Regions from separate parts of the Homo sapiens genome. Here region 1 is linked to region 2. Evidence: fine-mapped expression QTL. A gene starts in region 2. The other region holds a variant in brackets. All regions are shown on one strand. Distances are between the middles of the regions.

Region 1 (2,905 bases), 29 kb before region 2:
GCTCACTGCAACCTCTGCCTCCTGGGTTCAAGCAGTTCTCCTGCCTCAGCCTCCCGAGTAGCTGGGATTACAGGTGAGTGCCACCACACCCAGCTAATTTTTATATTTTTAGTAGAAACAAGGTTTTGCCATGTTGGCCAGGCTGGTCTCGAACTCCTAGCCTCAGGTGATCCACCCACCTCAGCCTCCCAAAGTGTTGGGATTACAGGAGTGAGCCACTGCACCCGGCCGTCTACAAAAAAAAATTTTTTTTATTAGCTAGGTGCCATGACTCATGTCTGTAGTCCCAGCTACTTAGGAGGCTGAGGCAAGAGGATTACTTGAGCCCAGAAGTTCCAGGTTACAGTGAGCTGTGATCTTGCCAGTACACTCCAGCCTAGGTGACAGAGTGAAACCCTGTCTCTTAAAAAAAACAATGTTTTTAATTAAAATAAAGCTATTGGGTTCCTCTTGCCCCTGTTGAAATGTGGGGTGTAAGAAACTGGTTCTAGGATCAATGCCTAGTCCTGAGCTTCCAGAAGCTGCTGGTGACTGTTGAGGCTTGCCTTTTCTGCTTGTACTCAGACAACTCCTTCTTTCTAGAGACCAGCTGTCTCCAGGCCGTGAGTCTGGAGCGCTGAGAAAGTGCTCTCAAGTCTGGGTCTCTGCTCTTGCTCCCACTGAAAGAGGTCTGGGTGCTATTTGGTCTGCGGGTTGTAGGGGCCAGCAGACTTTTTTTGTTCTTGTTTGTTTGTTTGTTTGTTTGTTTGAGATGGAGTCTCGCTCTATCACCCAGGCTGGAGTGTAGTGGTGCGATTTCTGCTCAATGCAACCTCTGCCTCCTGGGTTCAAGTGATTCTCCTGCCTCAGCGTCCCGTGTAACTGGGATTACAGGCACATGCCACCATGCCCAGCTAATTTTAGTATTTTTAGTAGAGATGGGGGTTTCAGCATGTTGGCCAGGCTGGTCTCCAACTCCTGACCTCAAGTGATCCGCCCGCCTCAGCCTCCCAAAGTACTGGGATTACAGGCGTGAGCCACTGCGTGTGGCTGGGCTGGCAAACTAAACAGCTTCATAACTCTACTGCATAATAGCTTCATGGCAGAGGAGGACAAACTCGCTCCTTAATCCTGCATTGCTTCATCAGTAATAGAGGATAATGATAGTGCCTCGTCAGGCTGCTGTGAACCTTAAGATAGCAAATGTGGAGTTCTCAGTTTAATATCTGCGGGAAAGCTGTCATTACTTGCTGGACAAGACCCTTGTGGTGAATGAATATGTATTGAGATTTTGCAAGGTGTCACAGGGAACACTAAGATAAGCCAGAGGCCTTGCTTTCAAGAAGATGATAACATCCTAGAGGGCAGGAGTCAGTACGGTTTGCAGGCCAAATCTGGCTGCTCCTTGTTTTTGTATAGACCACAAGCTGAGAAAGATTTTTACATTTTAAAATATATTTTTTTAAAGATCAAAAGAAGAATATTTTTGTAATGTAAAATTATATGGAATTCTAATTTCAATGTCCATAAATTTTATTTATTTTTATTTGTTTTTTGGAAACAAGGTCATGCTCTGTCACCCAGGCTGCAGTACAGTGGAGCCATTATAGCTCACTATAGCCTCAGACTCCTGGGTT[T/C]AAGGGATCCTCCTGCCTCAGCCTCCCAAGTAGCTGGGACCACAGGCACATGCCATCATGCCCAGCTAATTTTTTTTTTAATTTTGTTTACTTATTTGTTCATTTATTTTGTAGAAATGGGGTCTTGCTTTATTGTTCAGGCTGGTCTCAAACTCCTGGTCTCAAGCAATCCTCCCGCCTTGGTCTCCCAAAGTGCTAGGATTACAGATATGAGCCACCATGCCCAGATACAATGTCCATAAACTAATAACATTCTTTTCATTAGTAGACCTGAAACATTATACTCAGTTATTCTTGTATTTTGAATTTCATCAGTAACAATGTTGTGGAAATCTATTCTCTTTTGTCCTAAAGACATATATAATTGCCTCAATTTTGCCTCTTTTCCCCTAAGCCTAAATATTTACTATCTGACCCTTTACAGGAAAAGTTTGCTGACCCCTAACATACAGGCAAACAGCTCATTATAACATGGGGTACTCTCTCACACAGGTGCCAGCAAACTTAGGAAGTCAGAGAAAGGAGCAATGGGACCCAGTGGGAGGATTAGACACTGGTCTATGGAGAGCACAATGTTTGAGCTGGAAACTAATACAAGCGGTTACCTTTGGGTACATGGGGAGGAGCACAAATTGGGTGGATGAATACAGGAAGAGAAGTGAAGATTTTCACTTTATACCTTTTTACATTTTTAAAAATTTCTAACCATATGAAAACATACACATTTCAAAAAACAAAACTTGAAGTTTGAGCTACACCAGACATATTGGCTGTCGTCCCCCACGGAGAAAGTTCTGTGAAGGGCCCAGGTGAGGAAGGAAGAATGAGAGCCCAAAGCTCGTGGTGAGGACCTGGAAGGATGTCCTTGAGGTGGAAATGGCAGAGCCCGGTATCTACCTTGATGACAAAACCATGCCCTGCTCTCCTGGATGGCAATCCTGTCTGATAAAGCTTTGCTCAAATGTTGAAAGCTGCCATGGTGCAAAGGACACTTAACTGGGGAACGAATCCAAGTGAGTGATCTTTCTGAACACCAGGAAGCTGGCAGAGCTATTAACTAGATTGCTCACTGGTTTTCACGTGTGTCAAACTTCTCATTCTGCAAATGGGCTGTCCCTCTGGCCGGGAATAGGAAATTTGTGGCAATTCTCAGGAGGGAAGGGAACATTCTGTTTCAAACCACCAACCCTACTCTAAGTGGAAAATAATGTAAAACTTATTGTATTTGCAACATTACATTAAGAATGATGCAAAACTTACAAAAAACAGAATTTGGGGTATTTTTGTAT
Region 2 (2,905 bases):
CATTAACAGCAGCAGTTCAGCAGTGCTTGGGCCGGGCGCTGTGGCTCATGCCTATAATCCCACCACTTTGGGAGGCCGAGGTGGGCGGATCACTTGAGGTCAGGAGTTCGAGACCAGCCTGGCCAACATAGTGAAACCCCATCTCTACTAATAAATAAATAAATAGATAAATAGCTGGGAGTTCCGGCGGGTGCCTGTAGTCCCAGCTACTCGGGAGACTGAAGCAGGAGAATCGAGGAGAATCGCTGGAACCTAGGAGGCGGAAGTTGCAGTGAGCTGAGATCCAGCCACTGCACTCCAGCCTGGGCAAGAGTGAAACTCCGTCTCAAAAAAAGCAGAGCTTGCCAGGGGAGAAGAGTCTCTCCCATCAGAATCCTACCTCTTTTTTTGTTTTGTTTTGTTTTGTTTTAAACGTTTTTTTCTTTGTTAATGGTTCCATGGCTACCTCCGGAAGAAATGGTGAGACCTGCTTAAGTAGTGATGGCCCACCAGGGTTGCAAAGTGAAGTTAAGTCAGGTGCTTAACAAGAGGAGGCTGCTTCTAACCATGCCTCCCCCTTAGAGAGTTTCTAACACCCCAACCACTGGCCCCACCTGTGGACAGCCCATTCCTCCCTCTAAACGCACAGGTCGGTTTAGATGCCTTGCTCAGACCCCTGCGCCCAGCATGGGCGCCCTACGTGCTGTGCCCACTGGGGTGGTCTCACGGGTGGGGGTGAGCTGTTTGCCCCTGGCGGTTCTTACCTGGACGCCCCCGGGAGTATCCTGGATCTGCAGGGAGAGCTGGTCCCCCTCGACATAGACCAGCCGTGAATACAGCTTGCCTGGAGAATGAAGTAGAGTTTGCTTTTTAATTCTCAAACTCCCATCCGTAAAAAGAAACACGCAAGCATAAAAGCAGGGAGCGTGAAAGTATTCTCACCTGTATTCGGTTCATAGTCTCCAATGAATCTCTTGGTCAGGAAGCGCACGATCATTGCTGAAAAGGAAATAGGAAAATCAACCGAAGGAGTAGAACAAGCCTGTCAAACCCAGGCACCTCGGACAAACTGGGGGGAGTGAAGGGTGCAGAACCGTGGGCACTGCTCGCTTCCAGAGGCTCCGCAAAGCCGTGGTGCCGCGGGCTTGGCCGCGAGTACGACTGGCGGGACACCTCTCCCGCACCCCATCCCCGAACAGGCGCCAATCCCGCCGAGATCCCAGGAGTAGATGCACCAGGAAACGCCAGGGAAGCAGGCCGGGACGGACCGGGACCCACCCAGCGCGAAAGCAGCCCGATTCTACCTGCACCCGCGCCCTCTGCTTCGGCCGAGGCGCCCTCTCTCCGCAGCGCCCCCAGTGGTCGCGGCCGGAGCCGGGGAGCGAAGCCGCCCGGGGGTCCCCGCCGCACTCACCGCTCTTGCCCACGCGGCCGGCGCCCAGCACCGCCAGTTTGATGTCCTTGGGCAGTAGGTAGTCCGAGGAGGACTCGGGGATGGGTGCGAGCAGAAAGTGCCCGGACATGCTGAGCGGCCGCATGGAGCGCGTCCCGGGGTCCGGCGCGCAATCCGAGAGGGCTGGGCCTCGCCGCACCCGGAGCCGGCTCGCCAGCTGGGAGTGCGGGACTAGAGGTCCGGGACCGCGGCGGCTGCCTGCAGAACTGTCAAGGCCCGCGGCTTTTAAAGGGCTTGGTGCGCCCGGGAGCGCGGCGGCCGTCCCAGCTCCTCCTCGTCTCCGCCCCTTCCCGGAGCGGCCGGGAGGGGCGGGAGCAGAGGCCGCGGAGCTGACTATCGCCGAGGCTGTGCGCTTCGCCGGGCTGCTAGCTGCTCGCGGCTCCAGGCGCTCTGCGGCAGGACTGCGGCTCCGGGGCTCAGACCCTGGAGATACGGCCACCGTCCAGAGCGCGCGAGTGGCCTCTAGTCAGGCATTCTGCGAGTCTCCTCGCCCCGCAGCAGCCAGCCGGAGTCACTAGACCTGTGGGTGAACTTGAGATAGGAGTTACGAGTTGACGAGAGAAGAAGAAAAAGTGCAATCAGTTGGATGTTTCTGCAACAATGGGACAGATTGCTGTAAAACGCTGCCCTTTTTATTTTTAAAAGGTGCTAAGGGGCTGGGCGCGGTGGCTTACGCCTGTAATCCCAGCACTTTGGGAGGCCCAGGTGGGCAAGATCATCTGCGGTCAGGAGTTCAAGACCAGCCTGGCCAACATGGCGAAACGCTGTCTCTACTAAAAATACAAAAATTAGCGGGGCGTGGTGGTGGGCGCCTGTAATCCCAACTACTCGGGAGGCTGAGGCAGCAGAATCGCTTGAACTAGGGAGGCGGAGGTTGCAGTGAGCCGAGATGGCACCACTGCACTCCAGCCTGGACCACAAGAGCGAAACTCCGTCTCAAAAAAAAAAAAAAAAGAAAGAAAAGAAAAGATGCTAAGGGGTAACATTAATATGGGAAAAGGGCGGGGGGCGGGGGGCAAGAGCTCTGAATTAGTATCAGTGGAGGCAACTGCAGTCACTGTGACCTTGCTAGGGATAGATGAAGTCCCCTTAGGGGCAGTGATGGTTAGCATCTCAGTATCCATGCCCAGCCCCTCCTCTGCAGGCAGGGGTTGCACTGGCTCATTCCTGAACACTCATGAGCACTCCACTGGCTGGGGGCCCTGGCCCTGCACTAAGTGTCCATCATTAATACTATCCTATGTGCTTGAGTCATGCATTTGCTTCAGTATCCAAATATTTACTTCTAGGTGCATGGTGGGGTCTAGGGTGGGGTGGGGGGCAGTGTGAGGAACAGGACACAGAGCTATAGACTGGTTCTTGGATTTCTGGAGCCCACCAGAAATAGCACAGCAGAAGCCTCAGGACTTTAACCTTGAACAGTTAGAAGACCTTCATGCCTCTGACCTCCTGTGTTCCAGCCTCACTTGCCTA

Direction of the effects. Positions count from the first base shown, and alleles are read on the strand shown. Sizes are in standard deviations (SD) of each study's normalised expression.
For the expression in aorta of the gene that starts at base 1,632 in region 2, allele C in region 1 goes with a higher level than allele T (small effect, 0.30 SD a copy in GTEx).

What was found. PIP is the estimated chance that this variant, and not a neighbour inherited with it, causes the effect. A credible set is the group of variants that fine-mapping cannot tell apart.
Region 1: its variant is the best candidate, but not a certain one, in a credible set for the expression of RASL11A in aorta (GTEx, PIP 0.88).

The regions. Positions count from the first base shown.
Region 1 is chr13:27,298,776-27,301,680 of GRCh38, reverse strand. No RefSeq gene overlaps it. Among named protein-coding and RNA genes, the nearest start is that of RASL11A, 29 kb to the right of the region's middle. The variant T/C (reference allele first, on the strand shown) is at 1,617.
Region 2 is chr13:27,269,557-27,272,461 of GRCh38, reverse strand. It overlaps RASL11A (RAS like family 11 member A), which reads right to left and starts at 1,632. Exons shown (of 4, transcript NM_206827.2): 1 at 1,394-1,632; 2 at 922-978; 3 at 744-823. The coding sequence starts at 1,517. RefSeq lists silencers at 1,232-1,461, 1,502-1,721 and an enhancer at 1,670-2,170.